Linked DNA regions of Homo sapiens: region 1 is linked to region 2. Evidence: fine-mapped expression QTL. A gene starts in region 2. The other region holds a variant in brackets. All regions are shown on one strand. Distances are from middle to middle.

Region 1 (16,031 bases), 45 kb after region 2:
GGAGGAATGGTGAGGAGTGGCCATTTCCCAGCCAGACCAGTGAGTGGCTCCCATGCTGGGGCACTGATCCCACTCTTGCTGCCCCTGTCCCCTGAGAACATACAGGAGAAGGCAGCATTCATCTACACAAAGGGATCTCCTCCATTTAAATTTGATTAGGATGGGATTAGGATGGGATTTCAGCAACTCAGGCCTGGCAGATGCAGGCAGCAGACGTGTGCTTAGTGCTGGGATATGGGTGGGGCCAGGGTAAGAGCCAGTTTAGGAAAGAAACTGTCAGAGAATATGGTGAATCATTTTAAATGTGAGTGAGTGACAGTCTTTCTAGGATGCAAGGGGTTAAGCAGGCAGCAGGCACAGCCTCCCCGGAGCCAAAGGGGGAACTCAGGAGTAAGTCGGGACTGCCTAATTAATTCAATTAAACTATTTTATAAGCTCTGCTGGTGTCAGTAAATTGTTAAAGTCTATTAAAAAATCAGTGGAACGTGATGAGGGTTGGGGATGCCACATCACCTTCCTAGAGTTCCTCCCCTCGTCTTCCTCCCCTGTCGTGGGATGCACCAAAGGAGGGATGGGAAGGTGTCAGAGGCCCTGTCTGGTGCTGCCACTGACCTCTGTGGGTGCCAAGACAGATCCCACCCCCCTTGGCCTCATTTTCCCCATCTGTACAGTTAAGTGATGGACCAGCGCTTTAACATCCCTTTAGCAACAGTTACGAGGATTTTCTGATCTCTTCTGGCCTGGGCTGTTTTGTACCAGGGAACCTTGGGCCTTCAAGAAAACCCTCCAAGGTCAGAGGCGGCTGTTACTCCAGACATTCTGCTTGGTCTCTGCTCTTCCTTCACAGCAAGTTCATCTGGACAGTTTCCAGGGGCAGCTGTCAGGGCAAGTGATCTATAAGGGAGGTTCAAACTCTGGAAACGGGAGAGTGAGCAGAGTGGATTTCACCAGGAACCGCTGCCACGTGTAAGAGCTGCTTTCTCTAACGCCTGTGCTGAGTGAAGGGAAGCTGCCCCTAGAATCTCACTCAGTGCCCACCTGCCCACACGCAGGGAGGTGGTATTCCCCCCTTTTACAGATGAGGATACTGAGGCTCACAGGGTTGAAGCGATCTCAGTGTTAACTGGTAAGTGGTAGAGTTGAGATTTGAATTCAGGATTGCTGTCCCTCAAAGTCTGTGCGGTTGACCGCCTTCTTCTGCAGATAGATTTAACATAAAGCTACATCCCCCTGACAAACCCTGCAATGTGCAGCATTGGAGTCACGGGAAAGAAAACACTAGCAATGTTCTTTAGCCAGTATCCAGTTGTGAGGAACCTGCAGGAGGGGGCGACAGCCCTACCCTTGGAGGTATGAAAGCAGTTGCTGGCTGACCACTAAGGCAGGCCTCTTAGAGCCAAGATCCTGCAGCTCTGGGCCCAGCTGTTGCTTCATACTTTTCAGCAGTTTATGCCAGGCTTGGGAACTTGGCAGATATCACTCCTTGGTTCTTGAACACTGCAGTCAGTGTCTATCTTTGGTCAGATCTTGTTTGGCTAAACCAGTAGGGCAGGCAGCAATGGTCTTGAGGGAGGGAGGGTGGGTGCTGTGGAAAGACTGTTGTCTTGGGTTTGAGGGTAGACTTAATGAGCTGTGGATCTTTGGCAAGTCCCTTTCTCTCCTAATCTTAGAAGTTGAGGCTTGTTGCCCTTACTTCTGAAATGTGGCTCAGGCTGTATGCTCCACGGGGACATGGGAGAGGAAGGTGGAGGTGAATTGAGGGCTAGATAAACCTGTGAATGGAACACACTGTGTCTTAGAAATTCACAGTGGCCATTGGGTCTTTAAAGGCTCTGAAAAGTCCTGCAGCAAAGAAAATAGATGAATTTTGTTTATTCAGCCTCCCCCAACCTGGACCACCCTTTCCCCCTCTAAGCACACTTTTTATTTAACATGCTGCTGGCTAATATAAGGAGACATGAACACTGAGTTATTACCCCAGGAGAGAGCTGCTTTTTAAGGCGGTTGCTCCCCCGGTTCTTTCTGTGATGAGAACACCCTTTCTGTAAATGGGATAAATTGGCCCTTAGCAAGGTAGTGTCTAAGTCTTCTAAGTCGGGTTTCCTTAAACCAAAGTCCATGTTTGTTCCAGGATCCCAGAGGCCTGCCAAATTCCAAGAGCCTCTTTTGGTTCCCTCTGGCAGCCAGGCCTTCAAGACGCAGGATATAGGCACCTTGGGGCTCTCCTCACGTGCGCTTCTCTGTAGAGCCATTAATCTCAGAGCCACTAAGCACTGAAGCAGAAGAACCCATTGGGTGGGACTTTAAAGTTGCCTCAGTGTATGCAACAAAATCCCAATCATTCGGAGTTGCCGGTTTATGATTTTGTAAACTGCAGTTGACCTTTCCAAAAGATTTGCTAGGGAAAATGCTAGTGTAAAGAAGATCTTCAGGGGAAGAGCTCTAAGGTGTGTAAGGAATCATTCTATTTTTAAGCCTTTTGAATGCTCCCATTGGAATATAAACACTATGCTAATTATAAAAACATCTTTTCTGTTCCAAACGGGTGTAACAAGATAGAGAGGGCTGGGTAGGGGAAGGGAGGAGTGTTTAAACAGAGGTTGAACCAGAGATCAAACACCATCTGGCCACAATAGTTGCTCATCTTTAAAAATTCTGATGTCCCACCTGTTTTGACAACTTGGATGTAACAGTCAGTAGGAGCGAGCTTGACTGGCCCCCTCATCTTCCCAGCACTGGCCTCCAACCTGACTGGCTCATGAAACTTACCTGCATAGCCCCTGATCCTTTGAAATTTGCACCCCTGTCTAAGAACAGTTTTCTCTAATATTTTAAGGGCACAGTTAGCATAAAATTGCTCATTTTCTCTTCATTTAACTATAGAGGGAAAATCTTCTACCTTACTTAGCAAAACTTTCAAAGATAAACAGTTTTAGCAGCAACTGACCATTATTGAGCACCTACTATGCATCAGGCTTTGTGCAAGGCGCTGGAGTTTGGCCTCCATGTAGCTTGCTGCCTGCTATGGTCGGCATCACTGAGTGCATCTGAGGTTGCTTTCTAGCCACCAGCCAGGTGTCACTCAAAGCTTCTGCCCTGCCTGTCGTATGGTGGACCTCAGCAGAAGATTCTGAAATAGTGGAAGTGGTTCTTGCTGTTGACATCCGCTACTGTCAAAGATGAGATGAAGGACTAGATGAGCCCCTGAGAAGTCAGGCCGTTGGTTCCCTTTGAGCTTTGTGGATGCCAAGGTGAAGGGGTGGAGGAACTGGGGGGAGACTGGTGGCTTGAGGAGGGTCAGGGACACCAGCTGGAGGAGGTGTGCAGGCTTGTGGGTAGTTAATGCTGAGATTGGTAAAGGGGAAAGATAAAGCCATCCGAGACTCTAAGGAAAAGGTAGAAAGATTCTAATTAGCCAAGGCTTTGTATGCAAATGGCATTTCAAGATGCTTAAAAATACCTTTTGAGGGAAGCTGAAAATATTAGGTGGTCTACTTGAGCAGGGAGTATTTGGGGAGTGGTGGGACATAAAAGGTGTGTGTGGGGTTTCTGGGGGAAGGAGGAAAGGAGGGAGGGATAGAGAGAGGTAGATGGATGGACAGATAGACAGACAGACAGATACTAGCTATTCTTGTGGACGACCCTGTAAACCAGGTAGAGAATTTTGCTAACCAAGGAAATGAATAATCCCCATGAGGGCACAGCCTGTGTTTGCTTTATTCATTACTATGTCCTCTGTTCCCAGCAAGGGCTAGACATAGTAGATGCTTATTAAATATTCGTTGAGTGAATGAATAATGATAATTATAGTATTTATCACATTTATCTTTATGGCAGCAGCTATATAAGGAGATAGTATTATCTCTTTGTGCTGACAAAGGTGGGCCATTCTGAGACATGCGCGTGTGTCTGTGTGTGTGTGTGTGTGTGTGTCTGTGTGACTGTGTGTGTGTATTGCAGTGTTGGAGAGAAGGGCAGGAACACCCGAAAGCTTTTTTTGCAACAGCTCTGTGAAATATTGATCAATTTGATTCCATTGTATGACCCAGGGACAATTTTACTAGCAGAAAATATGACCGTGTTATATGGCTGCAATAAAAAATCACAGCCATGAGCTCAGGCCCAGAAAACGAAACAAGCTGATGATGTAGCCTGGACCGGTGGATTCCGCATCTTTCTGCTAGAGTTCATTTGCTGTTTGTGCCTTCGTGGTCCTGATGATAAGGTTACAGGTCTCAGCCAAAAACTTAAGAAGAGCCTAAAACTGATTTCAGTTTGACCCCTCATAAGCTTCTCTTGCAGTTAGGAAATGCCCACTGTTGTTCTGTTGTAGAGGTAAGTGTACCAGTCTAGGTTGGGAGCTGTCCCGTGGAAAGGGAAGGGCACTGAAGGTTTTGAAGCAGAGACATGATTGATCAATGAGTATCATGGCACTTAACCGTGGAGAGTTAAGAATCATGCAGGTGGCAGTTACCCTGGTGTGAGCGTGCCTAGAAGATGAGAACTGATGAGCTTTTGGTCCCTCTCAGAATGAGAACATGTCACCCACCTAACTGTGATTCTCGTGTTGCAAGGTGTGTATCCTTCACCCAACATGGTCCCTTAACACATCTTCGTCTGGTGCTCAATCAGAAAAACATTGCTCTGTCCCAATTCTGGAGGACAAACTGGTTATTGGGCTTCTAGAAAACTGGGAAGACAGTCTCCAGCAATGGTACCTTCTTAAGAGATTGTTCAAGTGAAATTTAAACTTTATTTACTGGCTCGAGGACTGAATCTTTCCTAAGATGCTACTCTGCCAAGCCTTTGGGCGGCTAATCTGGCATCTTGTTCAGAAGGAAGAGGGGCATGGAGAGGGTGGAATGGGGTGGCCAGCTCCCACCAAGGCAGGAATGGAGCTGAGATATTGCCACAGTTCAGTCTGACTTTGTTTTTTCTCTGTCACACCAGACATTGCAGCCTCAGGGCCTTTGCACTTGCTGTTTCCTTGCCCAGAATGCTCTTTTCTAGTTATTTTCTGGGCTCGTCCCTCTGGATATATCCTTCTTTGCCTAGCAAGCCTTCTCTCTATCCTTTTTTTTTTTTTTTTTTTTTTTTTGTGAGATAGGGGTCTGGCTTTGTCACCCAGGCTGCAGTGCAGTGGCTAAGTCTCCACTCATTGTACTCACTACCTCCCGGGCTCAACTGATCCTCCTACCTCAGCCTCCCGTGTAGGGAGGGACTACAGGCGTGTGCCACCACACTCGTCTATTTTTTTTTTTTTAAATCTTTTGTAGAGGCGGGATTTTGCCATGTTGGCCAGGCTGGTCTTGAACTCCTAGGCTCAAGCAATCCACCTGTCCCGGCCTCCTAAAGTGCTGGGGTTATAGGCGTGAGCCACCGTGTCTGGCAAGCCTTCTCTTAAGTACTGTTTAAAATTATACCATCTCCCCATTCCATCCTCCTTTTTGGCTTCATTTTTCTTCATAGTACTGGTAATCATCTAATGGTTATTTTACTGTTTAAAAAACAATTTGTATATACTTCCTCTCTATCTTCCCACCTCTCTTTCCCAATAAGGTAAGTTTTGTGAGGGAAGGGCTTAACACATTTTTTAAAAAACTTTGATTTCGAAAGATTTCAGACTCATAAAAACCTCTAGAAATACTAAGAGTTTCCATACACTTTCACCTAGCTTCCTCAAATGTTAACTTCTATGCCCATAGTATAATGCTCAGATTATACTATGAAATTAATATTTACACAAGAAATTGGATTAATATAATACTGTTAACTAACCTGTAGACCTATTCACATTTCACCAATGGCCCCATTAATGGTCTTTTTTCTGGCCTAGGAGCCGATCCGGGATCCCACATTGCACTTAGTTGTCTTACCTCTTTAGTCTTCAGCAGTCAGGGGCAGATCCTTGGTCAGTCTTTGAATTCTGTGCCCTTGAGTCCTTTAAAGAGTCCCCACCGGTTGTTTTATAGAATGCTCCTCCTGGATTTGTGAGACATTTGTAGGATGACGGAGGGTATGCATTTCCGGCAAGAATACCCCAGAAGTGATGCTGTTTTCTTCTCACTGTATGACATCGGGGACCTAGGGTATTGATGACTTACTACTGGTGATGTTAGTGTTGAACACTTAGTTAAGGTGGTGTCTGCCAGGTTCCTTCTCTGTAAAGTTACTCTTTTATTCTTTGCATTAATAAGTGTTTTGTGTGGCGATATTTTGAGACTATGCAAATATCTCATTTTTCATCATGCTTTTCTATCCACTAATTTTAGCATCTATTGTTGCTTCTTGCCTACAACAGTGATAACTGTGGTGTTTGCCAAATAGTGATTTCCTATTTCCATCATTTCTTCTGTATTTATTAATTGGAATTGTACTGTAGAAAGATCTCTCCTTTCTCCTCCATTTATTTATTTATTTACCTGCTTATTTAGATCAATTTAGACTGCTGGATGTCTATTTTATGGGTTATAATCAATTACCATCATTATTTTTTTTTCTGATGCTCAAATCATTCCAGATTTGGCCAGTGGCAGCCCCTTCACGCAAGCTCCTCTGTCCTTTGAACAAGTCCCTGTCATTCTTTGAGCATTTCTTACTTTCTGAGTCTTCAGGATGTACCAGGCTCATCTTGCACCCCGGCCCTGGAATCAGCCCTTACCCCATGGCACAGAGCAAAGGTTTTTGTCTGTATCACTCACTGTTGTATTCTTAGTGCCCATGGTGTCTGGCACGTTGTGGAGTCACAGTAAATAAATTTGGTGTGAATGAACGAATGAAAACTGGAAAGGAAGACTCAGTGGCCACCTTCCAGAGGCCATAATTCATATCCTCACTAGCCTCCCCTAGTTAGTCTGAATTAGCAGTTTAGGAGGGGAGGGGCTTTCCCTCATCTCCTCACGTTTTGTCCCTTTCAGCTTGTTTTCAGTTTTATCCAGTCTGAAAAGGATCCCAGGGCATCCCCCATCTCGTAGAGCAGAAAGAGCCAAGAGTGTGAGCAGCCAAGGGGAGCAGGCTGGCAGGAAAGTGAGACAGGGCTGGCAGAGCCTGGACCTGCTTGTGGCTAATGACTTGGTTGAACAGCAGCCGCGGCAGGGAGAGATGCTCTGGTGGCTGATGGCAGAGGTCCTGGGACCCCCACTGGTGTGTCTGTAGCTGGGGGCTGCTGAGAGCCTCTTGCAGTCTCCCGAGATGCACAGGCCTCGCTTGAATATTTAATGAATTTTTCTTTATAAAAGATTAAAACTCAGCCACATTGGCTTTGAGAAAGCCTGTGATAATCAGATTTTTATTTATGAGTTGAATTGTATGTGTGTGTGCATCCCTGAGGAGGAAAACTGGCTGGCGGGCTTGCCATCCGTGCTGGCAGGCTGTTATGCCAGGAGCGAACTTGGCGAGTGGTAGCCTTTTCATAGTCAGGAGAGGCCTGGCAGGCCCCTGGGCCG[G/T]CTGCTGCTGGTGTCCTCCAACGGCGGGGCCAGCCCTCTCCGTGAGGAGGTGGAACTGTCCCCATGCCACCTTGATTCCACGGTTTGGATTTGCAGAGCAGACAGACTCCTGTGTTCTTGCTGATTCTACACAGTGGTCCTGGGAAGTGGGCCAGGCAAGGAGGGTTGCCTCTAGTTTGCAGATGGAGAAACTGAGGTCCAAAAAAGGGAAGTGACTGGCTCTTCGTAGTCTAATGAGTCTGGAAGTCATGAACATTGTAAAAGTATCACAGTCAACTGCAGAGCTGATGCACAGCCTTCGCGTCACCCCAGGCTCACCTTCTTATGCCATCCTCGTGGGTGGGGATGCTGAAGGCTGCAGCCAGGGTCTGGTCCAGCCTGGGCTACACAGGGGCCTGACACCTGGTTGGACCTTTGAACCTGGGGAGCACCAGGGCCCTGGCCTGAATGTCAGGGCCTCTATAGCTCCTGGGTCCAGAGTGGGGAATCACTGTTGGAAGAGATCCCAGGTATCCCAAGTTCATTCTCCCTTGGGCCTTTGTACTCCCAAGTTCCTGACAGGCCTCATTCAGCCAGTTGCCATGGCGATGCAGAAGTCACCTGCTTGATCTCTGACACTTTTGTTTCAAGTGAGGCTATTGGCGTGGAGCCCTTTAGGGGCTAGGAGACCCCTTAATGGTGATTTATGGTGGGGAGGAGCCTGCGGGGTGCAGTCCATGTAGTGTGCTGTAGTGCTTGGGAGAAGGTACTGTAACACAGAAGTAGATCTTGATTTTTTACTTATTTTCAGAGTCACAATTTTTTTTTTTTTTTTGAGATAGTCTCACTCTGTTGCCCAGACTGGAGTTCAGTGGTGTGATCTCGGTTCATTGGAACTTCCACCTTCTAGGTTCAAGCGATTGTCCTGCCTCGGCCTCCCACGTAGCTGGGATTACAGGCGCCCGCCACCATGCCTGGCTAATTTTTTTATTTTTAGTAGAGACAGGGTTTCACCATGTTGGCCAGATTGGTCTCAAACTCCTGACCTCAGCTGATCTGCCTGCCTTGGCCTCCCAAAGTGTTGAGATTACAGGCATGAGCCACTGTGCGAGGCCAAGAGTCGCAATTTTTAATGAGTTTACATCATAAGGTGGTGGTAAGGATTAAATGAAAGAATGGATATGAAGTGGCAAGCACAGTACCTAGCACATGGGAAGAGCCACATCAATGACAGTTTGTGATAGTATCAATAGGATTTAGCATTGGAGATTTGTGCAGTTTGCCATGTGGCTAGTTGTAGTTTTGCTAAGCCATACATTTGTGTCCCACCTAGCTGAGGGTGACAGTGCTACCTGGGTAGCCCATTTCACAAGTGGAAGTCAGTTGTGTGGTGTGTTTCCCTTGCTAGCATGCACGCTCCATCAGGTTAGGGGCAATGGCTGACCTATTGGTGGCTCCAGCTCAGCATGTGTCTCTTAGAACCTGACACAGATCAGATGTTGAATACCTTTGCTATTTTAAAAAGTTACTTGAGCATATGTATTCATTTATCTTGCAGCTTTGGCATCCATTAGACCAAGGCTGGAATCCTGGGTCCTGTGTCTCCCACCTAATACCTGGGTGTTCCTAGGCAAATTATCTCGCCTTTCTGGTCCGTTTCCCCATCTGTAAAATCAGGCCAGTGTTATGCACCTAGATTCTGCTCTGGACTTCAGAGAGAATGAGTGCAAAGCACACAGGCAAGCCTGTCCCAGGGTAGCATTTGTTGGGGACTGCCTGTATGATGTCTGGTTTCACTGAGTGGAAGGGTTTTCATGAGGTCAGAGATTCAGAGTTGATTTAGCCATCCACATGTTAGGCTGAGGGTGTTCTCTCTTTAGCCAGTCCCTTGAAAGGCTTCTTCATGGTTATGGCCCAGCAGAGAATCCAGTCTGGTTTTCCAGAGTCTCGAAACACCCACATCTGAAGATGAAACCCCGGAGGCAAACAGAGTTAGGAGTCACTGAGCTTGGAACTGACCAGCTGGGAATGTGCTGTGGTCTTCCTTGAGAAGATGGGGAAACAGAACATGATCTGGAAAGAAGGAAGAAGGAACAGCTTCTGTTCTTCTCAGGGGAAATGGGACTTTCTGAACTTCATCATTCTGAAGTGTCCCACAGATCAAATCCTTTTTTTGACTACTCCTTACATAAAATATTTTTATGACAAAGCTTTCTACAAAGCAAAAGATGCCTTCTATAAAGTGAATCATCACTTCGGATGCTTCCTTTGTATAAACCTGGCCTTTCTTATGTTGTAGGGAGGGTTTTTTTTTCCTGTTATTTGTATTATCCAAAGCAATACATGTTCGCTGTTGAACAGTTAGGAAGTTCCAATGAGCAAAAAGGAATAAAAAAATCAAAATCACCCATAACTTTCCCATGCAGAGATAATCACTTTGGATGTTGATTTTTGATGTATCGATACTTTGATGTATGTACTGAAAACACATATGACATGTACATAACTTAAAAGCTTGTTCATTCAAGAAGTATTTATTGAACTCCTACTCTGTGTGTGATCCTGGGGATAAACCAGGGAACAAAAAATAAACACAATTTCTCCAGGGGACAATTTATGCAGATAAAAGGAAGAGAAGAAATTGGAACAGAAATGGGACTGAGGAAAGGCCTGAAACTGATAGTGAAAGTCGTCATGGGCTCTGAGAGTTTTGATCTCACTGTGGAGTGGTTAGGTATGAAATGGAGGGCTGGACGGGGCAGAGGGAAGATAAGTTGGCAGCTGCCCAGAGGGCCAATACCTTCTATCCAAAGAAAGTGGTTGTGGTTGGTGTCCTAAGTTATGTACACTGGCAGACAGGGGCAGGCCGGAGAGGGTTTTGTTTTGGTTTGTTTTTTTTTTTTTTTTTTTGCATGCGGATGCCCAGTTCCAGCAACATTTGTTGAAAAGAGTATCCTTACTCCTTTGAATTACCTTTGTGCCTTTGTCAAATATCAGTTGACTATATTAGTTTGGGTATATTTTTGGGCTTTCTATTCTGCTTATTCTGTCTGTTCTGTTTATTGTGATCTACTTGTTTATTCTTTCACCAACACTACACTGTCTTGTTTACTGTACCTTTATAGTAAGTCTCGAAGCTGGGTAGTGTCAATCCTCCAACTTTATTGTTGTTCTTTGGGATTGTATTGGCTATTCTGGGTCTTTTGCCTTTCAGTATATACACTTTAGAATCAGTTTGTTGATATGCACAGAACAACTTCTGGACTTGTGATTGGGATTGTATCAAATCTTTAGATAAAGTTGGAAAGAAATGAAATCTTAACAATACGGAGTCTTCCCTCCATGAACATGGAATATCTCTTTATTTATTTAGATCTTCTTTGATTTTTTTCATCAGAGTTTTGTAGTTTTCCGTGGATATCCTGTACATGTTTTGTTAAGTATTTATACCTACGTTTTTATTTTTTTGGCACTAATAAAAATGGCATTGTGTTTTTAATTTCAGATCCCAGTTCTTCATTGCTGGGATATGTGAAAGCAATTGACTCTAGTATCCTGCAAGCTTCCTATAATCACTTATTAGTTCCAGTTTTTAAAATGGATTATTTGGGATTTTCTATATGGACAATCATATTATCTGTGAATAAAGAAATTTTTTTTGTTTTGTTTTGTTTTTACAATCTGTATACCTTTTATTTCCTTTTCTTGTCTTACTGCATTAGCTACGACTTCCACTATGACATTGAATAGGAATTATGAGAGAGGACATCTTTGCCTTGTTCCCGATCTTAGGGGGAAGACATTTAGTTTCTCTCCGTTAAATATGATGTTAGCTGTAGGTTTTTTGTAGATGTTCTTGATCAAGTTGAGGAAGTTACCCTCTTTTCCTAGCTTGCTAAGAGTTTTTATTATGAATGAGTGTCAAATCTTGTTAAATGCACATCTATGATATGATCCTGTGACTATTCTTTTTTAGCCTGTTGATGTGATGGGTTACACTATTGATTTTCAAGTGGTAAACCAGTCTTGAACTCTAAGAATAAATCCCATTTGGTCAGGGCATACACTTTTTAAAACATTTTTAGGTTCAATTTTGTACTATTTTGTTGATCATTTATCCACCTTTGTTCAGAAGAGACATTGGTCTGTAGTTTTCCTTTTTTGTAATGTCTTTATCTGGTTTTGGTACAGATTGAGTATCCCTTATCTGAAATGCCTGGGACCTGAAGTATTTTGGATTTCAGACTTCTTTTCAGATTTTGGAATATTTGCATTATATTTACTGATTGGGCACCCTTAATCCAAAAATCCAAAATTTGAAATGCTTCAGTGAGCATTTCCTTTGAGTATCATCTTGGCAGTCAACAAGTTTCAGATTTTGGAGCACTTTGGATTTAAGATGTTTGGATTAGGGATGCTAAACTTGCATTAGAGTAATGTTAGTGTCGTAGAATGAGTTAGGAAGTTTTCTCTCTGCTTCTACTTCATGGAAGAGATTGTAGAGAATTGGTATCATTTTGTCCTTAAGGGTTTGGTACAATTCACCACTTGGACTTAGGGCTTTCTTTTTTGAAAGTTTATTAATTATGGATTCAGTTTCCTTTATATTAATAGATACAGGCATTTTTAGATGATATGTTTCTCCTTATCTGAGTTTTGGTAGCCTGTGTCTTTCAAGGAATTGGTCCATTTTATCTAAATTACCAAATTTGTGGGCAAGGAGTTGTATATAACATTCCTTTGATCATCCTTTTAATGTCCATGAGATCAGTAGTGATGACCCCGTTCGATTTCTGATGTTAGTAATTTGTGTCTTCTTCTTCTTCTTCTTCTTCTTCTTTTTTTTTTTTTTTGGTCTTGGTTAGCCTGGCTAGAGGCTTATCAATTTTATTGATCTTTTCAAATAATGAGCCATTAGTTTCATTAATTTTCTCTACTCATTTCCTGTTTTAAATTTCATTGATTTCTGCTCTAATTTTTATGATTTCTTCTGCTTGCCTTTGGTTTATATTGTTCTTCTTTCTCTAGTTTTCTAAGGTAGATGCTCAGATTATTGATTTTATATTGCATTCAGTGCTATAAAATTTCCTCTAATCACTGCACTTGCTGCTTCCCATAAATGTTGATAATTGTATTTTCATTTTCGCTTAGTTCATAATAGTTTTTAATTTCTCTTGAGATTTCTGCATTGACCTGTGTGTTATTTAGAAGTGTGTTATTTAGTCTCCAAATATTTTGGAATTTTCTGGCAGTCTTTCTCTTATTGATTTCTGGTTTAATTCCATTGTGATCTTAGAGCAGATTTTGTGTGGTTTCTGTTCTTTTAATCTCGTTAGGGTGCTCTTTTGGGCCTAAAATGTGACTATCTTGGTGAATGTTCTGTGTGTCCTTGAGAAGAATGTGTATTGTGGTGTTGTTGGATGCAATACCCTATAATAATGTCAATTAGATCCAGTTGATTGATGATGTTGTTTAATTTAACTAGATACTGATTTTCTACTTGCTGGATCTGTCAGTTGTTGCTAGAGGATATTGATGGTGGATTTGTCTATTTCTCCTTGCAGTTCTGTTTTTGCTTCACATATTTTGTTTCTGTGTTAGGTACATACACATTAAAGATTCTTATGTCTTCTTGGAGAATTGACCCCTTTATCATTATGTAATGCCCCTCTTTATCCCTGATAATTTTCCTTGCTCTGACTTCTGCTTTGTCTGAAATTAATATAGCTACTCTAGGTTTTTTTAATTAGTCTTAGTATGGTATATCTTTCTCCAAACCTTTACTTTTAATCCAAATATATCTGCATTTTTATATTTAAAGTGAGTTTCTTATAGACAGCATGTAGTTAGTTGGGTCTTTTTTTTTTTTTCAATCCTTTCTGATGATCTCTGTCTTTTTATTGGCATTTAGACCATTCACATTTAAAGTGATTGATATGGTATATTAATATTACCACATTTATAATTGTTTTCTATTTGTTGCCCTTGTTCTTTGTTTCTTCTTTTGTCTTCCATTCTTTTTCTCCCTTCTCTGCAGCATTTTATATGATTCTATTTTCTTCCCTTTCAACATATCAATTATTTTTTAAAAATAGTGATTTTCCTTAGAGTGTGCAGTATACATGTACAGTTAATCTGAGTCCACTTTCAAGTAACACTTTGACGCTTCATGGTTAGTGCCACATATCTTATAACAGAGTAGTCCCAATTCTTCCCTCCCTTCCCTTATAACATTGCTGTCATTCATTTCATTTATCCACATGGTATAATCATCCAGTATCCTGTTGGTGTTACTATTTTGAACAAACTGTTATCTGTTAGGTAAGAATGAGAAAAATAAAAGATTTTATTTTACTCTTATTTATTCCTTCTTTAACACTGTCCTTCTCTTTCTGTTTGTTTGAGTTTCTGACCCAAATTACTTACCTTCTCTCTGAAGAACTTTTAAAAATATTTCCTGCAAGGCAGATCTTCTGGCAACAAATTCCCTCAAATTTTGTTTTTTGTTATTTCTCCTTCATGTTGGTAGGATAATTTCACTGGATCAGATTTCTAGGTTGGTGTTGTTTTTTTTTTTTTTCTTTTAGGACTTTCAGTATTTCACCTATCTTCTTGCTTGCATGATTTCTGGAGAGAAATCCAATGTAATTCTTATCCTTATTCTTCTTATAAGTAAGGTTTTTTGGACCCCTTTTGCAAAAATATTTCAATATTTTCTTTTTGTCTTTTATTTTCTGCAATTTGAGTATGATACGCTGGGATACAGTTTTTTTGGTTTTTGTTCTGCTTGGTGCTCTCTGAGCTTCCTGGATCTGTGGTTTTGTGTCTGTCATTAATTTTGGAAAATTCTCAGCCATTGCTACTTCAAATATTTCTTCTGTTTTTTCTTTCTTTTCTTTCTGGTATTACCATTACATTTATGCTATACCTTTTGTAGTTATCTCACAGTTTTTGGATATTTGGCTCTATTTTTTACACTCTTTTTTCTCTGTTTTTTCTATTTATGAAATTTCTGTTTTTAGCAATTTCTTTTGATTCTCTCTTAGTTTCCATCTCTCTGCTTATATTATCAGCAGTTCTTGCATGTTGTCCACCTTTTCCATTAGAGCACTTTGTGTATTTTTTACTGGTATTTTAAATTCCCAAATCTGCACTGTAGCTCATGCTTGTAATCCCAGCATTTTGGAAGGCCAAGATGGGTGGATCGCTTGAGCTCAAGAGTTCAAGACCAGCCTGTGCAACATGGTGAAACCCTGTCTTTACAAAAAATACAAAAATTAGCTGAGTATGGTGGCATGTGCCTATAGTCTCAGCTACTCAGGAGGCTGAGGTGGGAGGATCACTTGAGCCTGGGAGGCAGATGTTACAATGAGCTGAGATCGCACCCCTGCACTCCAGCCTGGGCAACAGAATGAGACCCTGTCTCAAAAATAAATAAATAAAAAGTAAATAAATTCCCAAGTCTATGTCATATCCGAGTCTGGTTCTGATGCCTCTTACTGTAGCTGTTCAGTTTTTTGCCTTTTAACATGCCTTATAATTTTTTGTTGAAAGCTGGACATGTTGTATCTAGTAGTAGGTACAGAGGTAATCAGCATTTTAATGTGAGGTTTAAAGCCTTGCATGATGTATTAGGTAAAAGGAACTGAGGTAAATAGGCCTTTAGTGTGAGGTTTTATGTTTATCAGGCTAGGAATTAGGCTGTGTTTACAATTTATTGTAGCTGTCAGTGTCAGAGGCTAAAATTTCCTCTCTGGTCCTTGTTTTTGTCTCACCTGTTGTCTTTGGGTTTCTTTAGAGATTCCTTAAATAGTGACCAATCCTTGTAGTTCTTTCAGCTGTGATCCCATTAGCATACAGGAGTCCTGTTGATGTGGTGCTAAGGACTGGGCGAGGGGTAGTGTTCTAGAATCCTCTCATTGGTTCTCAGTCTTTTAGTGGGCCTGTGCCCCTGTGTCGTGACCTTTACATGTGCTTGTGAAATTTTTCTTTAACCCCTTAGGTGAGACAGGAAGGCTAGAGGAGTCTGGAGTTGGATATTTTCCTTTCCCTTGTGTTGAAAACTAGAGGGGTTGGAGAAGGACATTTCCCTTCCCCCATATCAATCAGACCCTGGTAAAACCCACTTTGGTTAGACCCTAGTAAATAGTTTCCCTTGAGGGCAGGCTTTTGTTGAATAGAACAGTATGTTCTGCAGGTATTTCAAAATGTTACTTTGTCCCTACCCCACCATGAGGAGATTTTTCTTCCATCTTAACTCTGAGAAGCTGGTGAAGCTCATGGAAGTTTTCGTCTTTCAAGCGAGTTCATCAGCTTGTCTTAAGTTGCAATTCTCTTTATTTGCTGTCTCTCCACTTTTAGGGGCAGTGGTTTGCTCTGTGACCTCAGTTCTCTGATGGATCTAAAAAGTTGTTTAGTTTCAGTTTGTTAAGGTTTTTTTCTTGTTACGAGGCATGGAGTGACAGCCTCCAAGCTCTTTACATGTTGGAATGGAAACCAGAAGTTTGTATCATCTCTTTTTGAAAATCTCTTTGTACTTCAGTTTGGATAGTTCCTATTGAACTCTTCCAATGCAGTGATTTTTGTTTTTTATCAGCTATATCCAGC
Region 2 (16,031 bases):
TGTACTTTTCAAAAGCTCCCAGGAAATTCAGATGCCTAGCCAGGGTTAGAGAATCCCTCTAAACTATACACAACAAAGTTAATTTTACGGGGGGAAAAACCTGTTTGAAGAATTACAGCTTACTGGGAACACTGGAAATTGCAAAACTTAAAATAACTTTTACCTGGTAGAAATAAGCAACAGAAAATAAAACACAAAGACTAACACTGCGTCCAGTAAATATTGACTAAACATGGATGGGAAGACCCTACATCTGCATGACAAAATTGAGATCATAAAATTTGCCTAGGAAAATTGGACCTCATGGGAATAACAGCTACAAAAGAACATATTCATGTTACGAAGAAAGATAATCAGCAAATTTTGATGTTGACAAGCCACTGATCAATGAATCAAATTTTTTTCCGTTGAATATACAATGAAAAGATTCCATTCCAATGAAAATAGTTTCAGTGTAGGCTTCTAGCTTTTTCAAACATATTAAATATTTCACTTTTGTTAACTTGTTATTTTGAAATAATTTCAAAATTATAGAACAGTTGCAAGAATAGGACAAAGACCTTTTGCATACCCTTTGTTCAAATTTGCCAATTCATATTCAGTCACATATAATTGCTTTATCTTATATATATAATATATGTATGCATACAGACATATACATATGTATATATATTTTTCGAGAGTTGCAGATAATCATGTGCCTTTCCATCAAAAGTGTGTACTTTCTAAGAGTGAGAAGATTTTACACAACCAGAAAATGATGATCAATCCAGAAATTTAAAATGAATACATACTATTCTCTAATATACAACTATATTCAAATTTCACCAATTGTCCCCAAAATGTCCTTTATAGTAATTTTTTTCCCACTCTGATCCAGGAGCCAAAAAAAAAAAATGGTTCAAGATCACTTTTTGCATTTAGTTGTCATACTTATCTCTTTAGTCTCCTTTAATTTGAAACAGTTCCTTGGTCTTTCTTTGTCTTTCATAACATTGACATTTTTGCAGAATACAGGCCAGTTGTTCTGTAGAATGTCCCTTGATCTGGATTTGTCTGATGTTTCCTCATGATTAGATTTGGGTTATGCATTTTTGGCAGGAATTCTGTGTAAGCACTGTTGGTTGTCGGTGCATCCCATCAAGAGTCACATGCTGGCAGTTTGTCCAATTACTGGTGAAAGAAACATTCCATTTTACTTTTCTATGCCTCACTCCCCTCATCTGCTAATGGAGATAACTGAGGGACATAGTTGGATGGCTTCATGGCTGAGCTGTCATTCCAGACATGCCCCGCCCACTGGATAGTTTTGCAGATGGAAGCCGTTGAGATCATCATCATCATTAATATCATCATCTCGACTATCTAGGATACCTACTGTGTGCTGACATTATTGCTTTTTCTAACCCTCATGTAAAACATGCACGTCTGTGTTATCATCCCCATTTAACAGTTAAGGAAACTGGGGCTCAGAGACAGTGGTGTGATGTGCTCAGGAAAACACGGCTGGAAAGGGACTCAACTGGGATTGGAACCCAGTTGGGTCTGAGTCCAGACAGAGCCTGAGCCCTGTACTATGACACATTGTAATTGCATTCACAAGTGTGTTTCTCAGCAGAAAGGATGGATTATTAAAGCCTCCTTTGGGAGCACCAGATGGTGAAGGAGGAAACGAGGTGGACAAGCTCTTGCCATCTTTATTCCTTTTCTTTTTTTCTCATGGCCTGGGCCCATCTCCATTCTGAGATCCAGCTGAATTAAAATCAGGACTACTGCCATAGTGGGGGGCACTGCCAACTGGATTTGGGGAAGCTGCCTTCAAAGCTGACTTTGCTCCATTCTCGGCTGTCTAGCCCTGCTCAAATGAGGTGACTCCACCCTCATCCCATCCCGGAGCCTGAGTTTCCTTATACATGTTGAGGTCGATACGGGCTGGAAATGGTAATCATAATTGCCATGCATTGAGTGCATAACATGAATTAAGGCTTTAAATAACTCTGTGGTGTTACGTACCTTATTTTGCCCAATTTTACAGATGAGAAAAACTGAGGTTTTTATAGTGGCTAATGTTACAATCTGCACAGGTCTAAGTGCAGAGACTAGATGAGATCTTTACTAGGATGCCAGGCTTTCTCTAGGCTTCATGGGCTGGCAGGTTCCATGGAACAGGTTTATGAAACATAAGGAGCATTTATTGTTGACTCCTGGGACAGGCTACATAGATTTTTGCCTCAATGCTGATTCTTTATCTGGGCGATCACTTTGATCTCTTTCTTTCTTTTTTTGGAGACAGAGTCTCGCTCTGTCGCCAGGCTGGAGTGCAGTGGCACGATCTCGGCTCACTGCAACCTCCGCCTCCCGGGTTCAAGCAATTCTCCTGCCTCACCCTCCCGAGTAGCTGGGACTACAGGCGAGCGCCACCATGCGCAGCTAATTTTTGTACTTTTAGTAGAGATGGGGTTTCACCATGTTGGCCAGAATGGTCTCGATCTCTTGACCTCATGATCCGCCCGCCTCGGCCTCCCAAAGTGCTAGGATTACAGGCTTGAGCCACCGCATCCAGCCTGATCTCTTTCTTTCTATTTGCCAGTATCTTGTCCTGGATCTTCTTTCTCTCCGTTTTCGCTCCTGGACTCACCTCCCTGGGGGACTGCCAAGGCCTAAGGTACCTGCTTCTCTGGAGACTTCACCATGACCTGCAAGGTCCCTCCTTGAGGAAGTACGTTGCTGCTGGTTGATCCCAACTCCTTCCCAACTTCTCCCTGTGCGGGGATGGGGAGGTAGAGGAATGGAAGAAAAGAAGAAAATTCCAGAGCAAAAGTTGGAATTTTGTACCGGATCAAGACACTTGAGCCTTAAAATGGGGGTGACTGTCCCTTCTCTGCCCACTTTGGAGAAATAGTCAATCAAACGAGAAAATGCTGCCAACTTGTTTGATAAATTGCTAAGGAATTTTCTAAGACCAGATCGTGTGATTTCTTCCCCCCCCTTTGTGTAGAGACTTGAAAGCCCAAGTCACCCTGGCTGGGCTGTTACAAGAGAGCATTTCCCTTGTTTTTTAGGCTTAAGGAAAAGTAACTCAGCTTGAGGAAGAAAACACCATTTCATGAAGTCTTAGCCTTCATTCTTTTCCATGCCCTTTTGAGCCGACTGTTTCTCTATAAAGGCAACTTCTCCACCAAGACCTACCCAGCAGATCTTAGCCAAGCCCCCAGGTTCTGTCTGGGACCCAAAGGCTTCTGCTGAGGCAACTCCCACCACCTGCTTGTGACGCAAGTTTGACATCTGCCCATCACCTACTAGAAAAAGCCTCAGCATCTTAACTTCCTGGGTTTTCCAAATGTTGCCAGACTCTAGCACAAAGAAATGCAACTTTGGTGTATCTCCACATCACGTCCTCAGTCTCAGCGAACCCTCACCAGTCCTCCAAGAGGAACATTGGAAGGTTCTGCTCAGCCCCCCACGTCCCTTCTCTCAAGGCTGGGTCTCAAGAGGCTCTATGTGTTTTGTGACCCTGCCATCTTTGGCCATAGAGGATCAGCTCCTGGTGGCACCTAAGCCAAGCTTGACTCACTCCATTCTCTATTCTGAGTTTGGATTGAGCGCAGAGACTCCAGTCAGTACTTGCTGCACTGAGAGGATGGTATGCTGACCATTTTGACTTCGTGTCCAGGGAAGCAGAGACGACCCCTAACCCGGAGAGAGAGTGGGAAGGAGGGAGAAGTTAGGACTGAGATGTCAAGAGATCTGTGGCCCAGAGTGATGGAGAGAGAAAGCCCAGGTCCTGAAACTTTTCTAGTTCCTGGCTCTGAATCCCCTTGAGGCTTTGTTTCATTTCCTGCCCTTGGATACCATGATCCACCTTCTAATTTTCCATTTTTTGTCTGTTTAGCGTGATTTCTTTTCTATTGGTTACAACTGAAAGCGTATTGATAAGACTGGTAGGTTTTAGAATCCCCATTTTTCAAAGACAGACACTAAAGCTCAGAGATGAAGCCCTGAGGCCAGGATCACCCGGGTAGTGAGGGCACCGGAAATTCCACCTGCCGACGTGTGCGCTTTCTCTACACGAGACACTTTCTTTTTTTTTTTTGAGACAGAGTCTCGCTCTGTCGCCCAGGCTGGAGTGTAGTGGCGCGATCTCGGCTCACTGCAAGCTCCGCCTCCCGGGTTCACGCCATTCTCCTGCCTCATCCTCCCAAGTAGCTGGGACTACAGGCACCCGGCTAATTTTTTTATATTTTTAGTAGAGACGGGGTTTCACCGTGTTAGCCAGGATGGTCTTGATCTCCTGACCTCGCTACACAATACACTTTCTAAGGACTTCACACATTACATCATTTAATCCTCAGGGCACCCCATGAGGTAGATAAAACTGTTAGCATCATTTTATTTATTTTACTTTATTTTATTTCTTTTTATTTTATTTTATTTTATTTTATTTTATTTTATTTTTTGAGATGGAGTCTCGCTCTGTCGCCCAGGCTGGAGCACAGTGGCTTGATCTTGGCTCACTGCAACCTCCGCCTCCCGGGTTCAAGCGATTCTCTTGCCTCAGCCTCCTGAGTAGCTGGGACTACAGGCGTGTGCCACCACACCTGGCTAATTTTTGTATTTTTAGTAGAAATGGGGTTTCACCGTGTTAGCCAGGATGGTATCAATCTCCGGACCTTGTGATCCACCCGCCCTGGCCTCCCAAAGTGCTGGGGTTACAGGCGTGAGCCACCGAGCCTGGCCTATCATTTTAAAGATGAAGAAGTGGGGGCAAGAAGTTGAGCCATCTGCTGGAGACCACACCGCAGGGGAAGAGGACCAGAGCCAGTGAACCTGGGAACTGACGCCAGAGGCTGGGCTCATAAAATGATGTAGTAATGCTAGTCCTGGAGGCAGTGGGCTAGGCATGGAAGGAGTAAAAAGTTTCCAGAATTTGATAAACTCAGGCACGCCGAGTTGAACCACAGACCCTCAGAAGATGGGAGAGCCTGTGGGTGTCCCTCCCGGACCACGCTTCCACCGATGTGAGCATCTGTTCTTCCACACCCCTGACCAACAGTCATTTTTCCAACGCTGTATCACAGAGCCTGCTCCATCATAGAGCAGGTCTGGTCTTGTCCCCTGGGCGATCACAAAATATGTTGGCTCCTCCACCCACACACCCTCCCCCTTGAAGCTCTGCCCAGAGCTCGCCTGGTGTTTGTAGGGGTCCTCCCCTTCTCTTGGCTTCCCCACACTGGTCACAGTGTCATTGCTCTCGAAAGTGAGGGGGCTAAGATATGACCACAGTGCACCTGATGGGACCATAGCCACCTCATACAGTACCTAGCCACTTTCTTGGGCAGGTCCTCAGGACACTCCAAAAGTTCCACAAGGTGAGTATGCCCTCAGTTAATTCCTGAATGGAGACAAACCACAGCTCTGAGTGATTGCATAGTTTCTGCTGTGGTTTGGGAAATATGTGGGTTCATTTATAAGCTGGATTTTGTCAGGAAGACTTCAAGCTCAGCCATTGTCCCCTGAGGATACCCTTCATGGCCCATCTGATACAGAATGAAGAAAGGAAGCACTCTTCAAGGCCGAGACCCCTGGGGAGGAGATGCCTCTATGGTCGAGATGTGCTGATAGAAGGCCCAGCTCCTGGGACCCATGGGTGGCGAAGAAACGGAAAGGGCTTGCAGTGATTCTAGAAAAAGAAGGCTGAGAAGGACCATGAGCTTTTATAGGCCAGAGGTGCCTGAAGACAGGCTGTGGATTATTTCAGGTTGGTGGTCACTGATGCTCTTGAGTGAAAGCCACAGATTTTCTCCCCCAAAATGCACATACAGACATACATTTGGTTAAGGAGTAGTTCTTGGTTCCCCAAACCAATGCAAAGTCCCCATTTAAGAATCCCTGCTCTAGAGAGAAACTTCCATCTAATTAAGACCCTCCTGGAATCTTCGCTGACCCACGCCCGGGCTGGGTAGGACCCTTCCTTGAGCTGCACTGAGCACCTCACTGTTGGCACTGTACTGCAAAGGTTTGAAGAAGGTGGCCCTTAAACCAGCAACATCAGCATCACCTGGAAACGCATTAGAAATGCAAACTCTTGGTGCCTAACCTAGACCAAATGAATTCAAAACTCTGGGGTGGGCTCAGCAATCTGAATAGGCTCTCCTGCTGATTCCAAGGATCACTTGCATTTGAGAAGAGCTGCTGCAAATAGTTCTCCTCTTCATGGTGTGTGTCTGTCCTACTAGATACAAGGCACCTGGCACATAGTAAGTGCTCAAATGAATAATTATCGTATCAAGTTTTCCCGACTCCCAGGGCAGGAGTTTTTCCTTGGTACCATACAGCTTTCAGCTGTGGTGACTGAGACCCCATGTCATTTTGGATCTAGTTTCTACTCTAAGGCCTAAGATCAGGCTTGGCTCTACTAGGCAGAGGCGGGGACCCGGCCTTGAGGCAGGTGCCCAGAAACCTTCACACAAGGATCGAGCCAGACAGACATCAAATCTGGGAGCATCTTTCCAGGTAACAAGGCCCCAACCACCTGGTGGATGAGGGGCAGGTGGACTAGGGGCTGCCTGCCCAGCACATATGCTCAGGGCTCACAGGACCCAACTCTGCCATGCTCTGCAAGCTGCCCCTACTCACCTTGGTGCCTGCTGCACACCAGCCTGGGCAGAGGCTGCCAAACCTCTGGCAGGGACATACTTACCAGGTTGGTGGGGAGAAAAATGGCCACTTTCAATTTCAATTTTTAAGGAATCTCCAACTTTTAGGGGTCTGGGAGGAAGTGGTTAGAAGACTCCTCTTTTTTTTTTTTTTTTGAGACGGAGTCCCACTCTGTCACCCAGGCTGGAGTGCAATGGCGTGGTCTCGGCTCACTGCAACCTCCGCCTCCCGGGTTCAAGCAATTCTCCTGCCTCAGCCTCCTGAGTACCTGGGACTACTGGCTGGTGTGTGCCACCACACCTGGCTAATTTTTGTATATTTAGTGGAGAAGGGGTTCACTATGTTGGCCAGGCTGGTCTCCAATTCCTGACCTCGTGATCTACCCGCCTTGGCCTCCCAAAAGGATTATTTGCGTGAGCCACCACTCCCGGCCAGAAGACTCCTTTTAACGTCTTGTGTTATGAGTGTTTGTTAAGGGGGGCAAGAGTTGTGTTTCTTAATTTCATGTCTCCCATATAGGGCTAAACTCCCAATTTAACTTATTAGGGAAAGGAGGTGTCTTCTACACAGTGCCTCCGTTTCCTAAAATTTTAAAAATAACTTTTTTGAGGATTGTAGGGAAAACATTTCTGTAACCTTTCCTGTCTCATATTGCTCCAGTTCTTTAAACATTACAAAAAAGAACATTTGATTTTTGAAGGTGGGGGCAGAGAGAAGATACCTGGTTACTCTTAATTTCCAATGCTTTTATTTTTGAAAAGTACCCTTGCAGTTTTCTTTTGGGGAGGGGCAAAGAAGGATTTCTGTTCACCTTGCATCTCATAGAAGAGCAATTCTTAACATTTTTATTCCAAAAATCAACCAGTTGTGGGAGATGTAGGATGGATCCAGTAATCCCTCCTTGTCTCTATAATAGGGCAGGTCCTTCATACTTTCAATTTTTAAAAAATCGGATTTTTTAGGAGAATAGGGAAGAGAATAGAAAAAAAAATCCCTTTTAAACTTTCCCAAGTCACAAGGAGGCAGTTGCTCAAGTTAAAAAAAAAAAAACAACAATAACAACAACAAAAAAACTGGCTATTTTGGGGTGTTGGAAAGAAATATCCTGGTTCACGTTTTATTTCACATGCAAGTTTCTCAAATTTTCCTTCTCTAAATCAACCTAACTGGGGGATATGGGGGTGGGGGGCGCTAATATCCCTTAACCTTTAACCCCTCTTGTCTTACTGTAGGACCAGTTTTTCAAACTTTTATTTAGAAATACATATATATATTTTAATTTGGCAAGGATAGGCAGAAACAGCCGCTTCACTGGCATTTCACATAAAAGCGGCTCCTCAAGTATTTATTTTAAAAATCAGTCTGGCTGGGGGGCTAGAGTCCCCTTAACCACTCTTGTCGGACATGGGGCCAGTCCTTCAAACTTTTATTTTATTACATTAGTTTTTTTGGGAGGAGTGGCAGGGCAATAGAATATTCCCAATAAGCCTTCCAGTCTTCCAGCAAGCCAGCTCTTGAAAACTTTTATTTCAAAAATCAATCTGGTTTTTTTTTGGCGGGGGGGTACAGCGGGGTACAGAGTTCCCATTAACCTCTTGCGTTCCGCCGAGAGCCGGCTCCCTGAACTTTTTTTCCAGCGTGAAAATGACATTTCCGAGGGGCTGGGGGACTGGGGGAGGGCAGAAGGGAGCCGGGGAGCGGGCGCGGGGGGCGCGGGGAGGGCAGGGCGCGGCGCGGGAAAGTTTGGGGGGGCGGGTGTGCCGCGGCACTGGGGCTGGCGGACGGGAGGGCGGGCGCGCCCCTGGACCGGCCGGCTTTGTGTGCCACGCGGAGGCCGGCAGCGCGGAGGCCGAGGCCGAGGCCCCGAGCTCGCGGGCCGCACGGCGAGGCCGGCCCGGGGGCGGGCAGGGCGGCGGGGGGCGGCGGCGGCCCCGCGAGGGGCGGCTCGGCGGCAGCGGCTGCCGCGGCGCGGCCGGTGCGGGCCGGGGGTGGGGGCGAGGGCCGGCGCCCCCCCCGCGCGCCCCCAGCGCCCCCGCCCCCCCGGCCTGAGCGGGGCGGGCGGAGGAGGGAGCGGCGGCGGCGGCGGCGGCGGCGGCGGCGGCATTGTGCGCGCACCAGCAGCCCGGCCCGGGAGGAGCAGGACGCGCCGGGGCCGCCTCCTCCCGCACGGACCCATGAACCAGCCGGGCGGCGCGGCGGCTCCGCAGGTACGACGGGGGGCCGGGGGCATGCACCGCGCGGGGGACCCCGGGGGGCCGGGGCCCGGGGCGCTGCGCCACTTCATTGCAAGATTTGCAAAATGCAAAGTGCCTGGGCACGTTTGCGGGCTTTTTGTGGGCGCAATCGGGAGGGTCGGGGTCCGGAGAGCACCCCCCCGGGCGCTGCGGGGTGCGAGGAGGGTGGGGGTGACGAGGGGGTCTTTTGGGGCCCCCACCCAGCGCCCCCTCCGGCCCCGGGCTCGGACCGGAGCCCAGAAAACAAAGCGGCGAGAGAACAGAGCAGCCATTTCAGTTTGGACAATTCACATTTTGCAAAAATGCAACCCCTTCCAGCTCTGCCCCCTCCCCCCCAAATTTGCAATTTTCCCCTGACCCTCTCTGCGCTCGGGGTCCCCGATGACCCCCCGGGAGGTCTTTCCCCCCAGGTCCCCCATTTTTGCAACAATCTTTTTTTTTAGGCCATATTTTCCTTTCTCAATTTTTTTTTTCTAATTTTTCTTCAAACGGTAGTTTTTTCCCATTAAAACGACGCCACCTAGAGGATACTATTTTGTAAATAAAAAAGAAATTAAAATTGAAAAGAAATATTTTTTATTTCTTATTTTTTCAAAAGTTTGCACTACCAGGCAGTGGAGGGGTAAGAGATTCTTTTTTTTTCTTTTTTCGGGTGAAAATTTTCACTTTGATCTTTCCAGAAGCATGGAGACAATTTTTATTTCTGAAGCCAAATCCAGATAATATGTAAATGAAAATTAAGCTGGAATTTGAATGAATTTAGTTCTTGGAGGGGAGAAAGCAAAAAACCTCCTAAAAGCAAAGTCAGTTTGGGTACCCAACTCATTTTAGTTTGAGAAAAAAACTAATTGGAATAAAGAAAGGAGGGAAATTGTTGAGTTTAGGGAAAACTGAGAGAATTGGCTTTATGAAGCAATTAGAAATTGTACTTCATTGTAATTTGGAACTTGTTTAGCTCAGCGGGCAAAAAAAGACTAATTTCTCTATATGGCAATATTTAAAGTTTTTCTATTTCCACGAACGAAGGATTTAAAAGAGAAAATAGAACCTAAAATGTTGGCTTTGGACACACCCAAAAATTGTAGTTTTTTTTTTTTAATTTTGCATTTACATTTTACTGCATTTAAATCCTAAGATTCTAAAGAAAACAGAAACTAGAAAAGTTACAGTGAAATCCTTTCTTTCTTTTTTTCTGTATTTGTTGGGTTTTGTGTGTGTGTGTGTTTTTTTTGTTTTGATGGAATAATTAAGACTGTTTTCTGATTTTGTTTCCTGAAAGGTCTAGGCATTTCTTTTTTGTTGTTGTTTTATCCAGAAAATGTCAGGAACCTTTTTTGAGCAATATTAAGTGGAAAAAATGTAAATTCATACATTATACAAATTGAGTAGCCCACAGATTTGTAGGAGAGACCGCCATTAAAATAAGATATGCATAATTAACATTATTATGAAAAAACTAACAGTGGATTCACAGAAGCTCATTTTTTATGACATGCAACTGAATCAATTGATGAAGACAAGGATTGAGGAATCCTTGGTAAGGAAGAAAATTTTCCCTTTTCTGTCTTGTTCACCCTTCCAATTTGAAAAATTTATTACTTAAAAAAAATTTAGATTGGTTTCAGGCCTCTTTGATTGTGATGTGGGGTTGGTAGTTTATCAATATTTGTTATTTTTCAAAAACCTGATTACTTTCAAAGGGGGAAAAATCCATTAGCCTTGATCATTTTGGGGGGTTTGTGACCAAAAAAAAAAAATGCACAAATTTTACTGACTTAACAAGAAAAAGATAAAAGAGGGATGGGCAAAAAGGAGATGAAAATTCTGATTCTTATCCATCTTCCTTGGTAGAACACTTACTTTGCTGAAGAAATGTGATATAACACCAACTCAGCTGGTTTTAGCAGCAACAAAATAAAGGAAAAATAATCAAAATACAAACAAAAGCCAAACCCAAGGTTTGCCTTTGGAATATGAAAGCATATATGCAAACAATATTTCATGTGGAGGTTTTGGCCTTAAAATGAATCACATGAAGGTGAAACAAAAAAGAAAAAAAAATTTAAGAAGGCAAATAAATATTGACCGAATTGAAATTTGACAGATGAGAATAAAGTACCCACCCAAAGATGAAGCGTTTTGTGATAAATTAGTATCTAATTGAACTTGCTGGGGATTTTGAGCCTATCCCCCAAAAGTTACAATTTTTCTGTCCAAAAACAGCATATTGTTAGGACTTGCAGGGCGGGATCTTGGAGGGACCTTGGATTGGAAATTGATGGTGGGTCACCTGGGGCAAGAAAGGAAACCCTTTGCTCCTTTTGCCAGCCACTAGCTGGTCTTGGGAAAACTGGTGGCCCCAGTCCATAGATTCCCAACCCTGTTTTGTGGAAATTTGGATGTTTAAGTGGAATAAGTCAAATATATTATCTCTGTGAAATATATTTGACAATGGCAGAGGTTTGACATTTCCCATCATCGCCATTGCATTTGGGAGATTTTATTTTTTTAGTAACGAAATCCTTCAGGGCTGACTGGTCACATTCTGACATATTTGGAATGAGCTTTTTTTTTTTTAAGTAGCATAATTAAAAAAATTTTTTTCTGTTGAATTATTTAGGCCGATGAGTAGGACGGTCAAGGAATTTATAATTTCCAAGGGGCTTTGGAGGCCTCATGAGGCAGAAGGCCTGAGTTTAGCAGTGATGAAGGAGAGATGGGCTGGGGAGGGGTGGAGGGGGGTAGGGGCATCTGAGAAAAAGTCAGGGTTGTAGATAACAGGTTATTTCTGGTGCAAGGAATAAAAATATTGCAGCACGTCCCTTTGTGTGGCCTGGATCTCCTGACACACAATTCAGCTTCCTTCATTCCATTCTGCTGAAATTTTGTTCTGTTGTCTATGGCTAGAAGTTGAAAATCATTTCTGGTTTTGTAGAACTGTTTTTTTTTTTTTTCTGTTTTTTTTTTTTTTTTAAATTGGTTATTCTGATCATGTTTGTTGTAAAGGAAGTAGAGGTGCATGATGGTTCTATTGGGGGCGGGGCCAGTTTTCTTTTGTTTCTATTGGTGTCTCTCTCTGGATTGAGATCTGACCTTGGCCTTGGCTCTCTCACCTCCTATTTTAGGTGGACGTGTGACCAGAAATGGACATGTGAGCTAATTTTTATTAGCTCCTGTCTGTTCACCACATTCTCGTAGATTATTGGGCAAAATATCTGGCAAATTGGACTTGGGGGTGGTAATTTGATGATGGGCTGAATTATTTTGGCGAAAGATCGTTTATATTCAGTTTCACAGTGGAGACTCTTATTACTTAATGTTTTGCTTTTCTGCCTAAGGAGGTTTTTTTTTTTTTTTAATTTTTTCTAACAAGGTTTGAAATTTCAAGGGCCTGCTTTATAGTTTGACTTTGGAGCAAGCTAGGAAAAGAGGTTTGCTTATACTTCCAGCTCTGCACAGAGGTGAACTTGAACAAGGGTTCTTGCTTTTGCAGAACGAAAGCAACAAAGATGGCTGGTCAGTATAAGGCTGACCTCTCCCTCGTCCTAGAAAATAAACAGCCAATGGCTTGTTTCACTTGAGAAACTGGGTTTTAAAACTCCTCCAGTGTCAGATACAATATTTTTCTCACTTTTGACTCAGCTCTTGGCATGCTGCTTCCTCTGACCTCAGAATCCTTACGTCTTCTCCTTGGTGGGTGATAAGAACTTCCTTGCCATATATGACTGATGTATATAAGCCGACTTCTCATGGTCATGAGGAAATTTTGAATTTTTTCCATGTTCTTGTGATGTTTTGGGTCAGTTGTACCTTCTTTCTGGTGATGTAAAATGAAGTGGCTCTTTTCAGGAGCCCTAGCCCCCACAAGGTCTTGCTGTGTGACCTTGGACAAATCACTTTTTCCTTCAGAGCCTCAATTTTTGCATTTATAAAATGAACACTTGGGATCAGATCAAGGATAATAATAAATAGGTTTCATTTCTGATTGTAACTCCAAGGAATTGGTTATGGCTGCCTGGATCACTGTGTTGAGAAGGATTCTGAGGCCATATCCCGACTCCCATATTCTAGAGAGAGGGGTGCAGTGGCCAAACAGCATTGTAAATCAGAGTGGAGAGTGTACCTCTTAGTTACCATTCCCAGGCGAGACCTTGAATCATGGGCCATTAGTGGCCTGTGAAGTCAATTTAGTGAATCACAATCAGAATTTTTTAAAAACAAGAATAGACTAGAATATAGGGGAACAAAAAATAGCAGAGGCATACCACAGGGTACAGGTGAGTATCCTCTCATGAAACTTGTATTTATATTTGTGGATGTATGTGTGTGATTTGAAATAGATTTCCTCCTGTGGGTCACGGCCAAAAGAGTTTGAAAGGTACTGGACTAGCTGAACCGCCATGATGTGCTGCAGGTATACTGCACTTTATTGCTTATACTTTATTTTTGCATTTATTATCTCAATTAACTTTTAGGTGAACCCTGTGGGTTAGGTGTCCTGTGCCACATATTTTGAGCCCTGGTTGAGCCCACTTCAAGGGCCACATATGAAGAAAGCTCAGCCACATGGGCAGCCCAGGCACATACCCCAGCTTGTTGGCCTTGGATGAGTCTGGAAGGACATATGGAAAGGCAGATACAAGTTTGAAGGCAGCGTCTTTGCAAGGTCTTCTTGCTGGAGAGGAGATCTAAAGTGTGTGGAGTCCTTGTCTTTTGTTCCCCACTTTTAGTTTAAATTGCCAGAGAAATTTTTCTGGAGTTAGAGAGTCTGTGTTTGTGCTATATTTAATTTAATCAGACAAAAACACAGTCTGTATTTTTGTGTGTGTGCACTTCCTTAAAAATCCCAGAATTTCTGTCTTAGTCTCCTCATCTTTTAAATGTGTCAGGTCAGCGCTAATAGAAATATAATTCAAGCCCCCGTTGCGAGCCACATATATAATTTTTAATTTTCTCACAGTGTATTAAGGAAAGTAAAAGAAACGGGTGCCATTGATTTTAACATATTTAACTCAGTATATCCATAATACTATCCTTTCATCAAGCCATCCATATGAAAATTATTAATGTGACAAGTTACAGTCTTTTGCGGGGGTGCTATTGAGTCTTTGAAATCTAATGTATTTTACTCCTACAGTACATCTCAATTCTGACCAGCCACATTTCACCTGTTCAGCAGCCACATGTGGCTGGTGGCTACTATATTGGACAGCTCAGGTTTGGACCAGTTGTCGTCATCACTGGCTGGCCCCAGAAGGGTAGCAACACCTTTCAGACCTCTTGGTTTTGTTGGTGAGACTTCCTATCAGAATCTCACATGCTCTGAGGCATTTCAGCCTGTAGTGATGATGAGTTCCATCCATATAGCTCTCCTGGCTAGAGTAGCCCACATTTCCCTTTTATTTGTCCCAACGCAGACTTCTGCCAGGGTTAGGCCACTGTGCTGTAGTTAAAAATGACAAATGATGGCTAGTAACTCCGGGATGATGTGTTGCAGCCTGTGAGCTGTTGAAGTCAAGGAGTGTGAGTCCGGGAGGCTGTTGCTTTTTGAAGTGCATTTTAAATAAAGTGTTGCCAGAGAGAAGGATGAAGTTGCAAAAAGGCAGCAGGTGGCCAGGACCAGGGCTGGGGTCTGAGGAGAGGAAGGAGATCAGAGGTAAAAGATGGCCTGGCAATGAAATCTATTTCTGAGCCAAAAACATGGCATCAGCAGGAAATCCCCCCAGGCCAGGCCTTAGGTCAGATGCATAGAGATTTTCCGAATCCACCCCAATTGGGAAAATGGAAAGCTGGGTTTGAGGTCTGCCAGACCAGAGTTTGAAATCCAGCCTCATGGTGTGGTTAGCTTTGTGTGACTTCGGGAAAGTCACTCTGGTTCTGGAACCACAGCTTCTACATCTGGGAAAAGAGGGTTAATGATCCCAGCCTTGCAGGGTTGTTTTAGGATTAAATGAAGGGGTCACATGTGGAGACTCTCAGCCGGTCTGAGGGCCTGAGTAGGTGGTCGACGCATGTGAGTTGACTCAACCCAGTGGCCAGGGATTCTCCATTTGGGGAGATTAAGTCCCACTGACAACACTTGGGGTAGTCCTGGAAACCTGGTGGCTTATCGTTAGCAGGCAAAGTTAGGCGACAAGTGAGAATGTACACTCTTGGCTGTTGCTTTAAAACAGCCTGCCATCCATGAGACTTTCTTGTTAAAGCATTCTGGATGCTTTCATTCCGGGGCTGCTCTAGCTCCTTGGAATGTTTCTGGATTTGTTTCTGAGCCTGTGGCAAGGCTTTAAAAGGGATACATCTCAATCGCGGGTGGACCTGTATGTCTTTGAGCTTCTGCTCATGCTGGGGCCCTTGCCTCTGGTGCCCCTTCCCTCATTCATATCTGCTTCGTGAGAAACCAGACCCTCCTCGAGATCAGCTGCACTTCTTCTTCTGTAGAGCTCCCCCAACAAATTTCCCCAGGTAGGCTTCCTCTCCCTCTGCCCCCATGGTACCTCCCAAACAATGTGGACCCACAGGTCAGAGTTGGTTGTTTGCATTTCTGCTTCTCCAGCCAACTTGTAACATCTGTGAGGGTAGAGATCACCGGTTATTCATTTTAGGGTCTGGCGCAGAGCAGCAGCTCCATAAATATTTGATGACTTCATTTGATTTTTGGAAATAGCTCAGATCAGTGGGCTTTGGGTCTAGTGAAGAGTGGATGACCAATTTGGGCTTGGCCATTTGGTCAAAGCCAATGTTTTATTAGGGAGCCCGAGGCACATTTTCTTACAGCTGGCTCTGAAGCCATGGCTCCCCTGGAATAATAAGTCCAACAGGGATCCTTAGTTGGGGAAATGCTCCTTTACATGTCTTGGGGGATTTTTAAAATGTTCGTCTGATGACTTTCACCCCTGCCCTCCTCACTCCTTTTGTATAAAGTATTTCTTTAAAGTGGATGGGGGACCCCCAGATGCCTGATTTGCAGGTATGGTGAATGGGGCATAGCAGTGCCCTGTATTTATGCCTGGTCTTCTTAGCCAGGTGTCCTGGAACTGAACACCAGGGGCCTGTTTGCAGAATATCCAGGCACACGGGCTCCTTCAACTTGAAGCACCTAAATGTGTGATGTGACCCCATTTTTGGTTGAATTTTGGTTTG

Evidence for each region. PIP is the estimated chance that this variant, and not a neighbour inherited with it, causes the effect.
Region 1: its variant is fine-mapped to the expression of ZNF618 in cerebellum (GTEx, PIP 0.96). The same link has a PIP of 0.9 or more in cerebellar hemisphere.

Annotation. Positions count from the first base shown.
Region 1 is chr9:113,912,163-113,928,193 of GRCh38, forward strand. All of the region lies in intron 1 of ZNF618 (zinc finger protein 618), which reads left to right. Among named protein-coding and RNA genes, the nearest start is that of ZNF618, 44 kb to the left of the region's middle. The variant G/T (reference allele first, on the strand shown) is at 7,446.
Region 2 is chr9:113,867,550-113,883,580 of GRCh38, forward strand. It overlaps ZNF618 (zinc finger protein 618), which reads left to right and starts at 8,760. Exons shown (of 15, transcript NM_001318042.2): 1 at 8,760-8,864. The coding sequence starts at 8,832. RefSeq lists enhancers at 6,183-6,683, 6,684-7,184.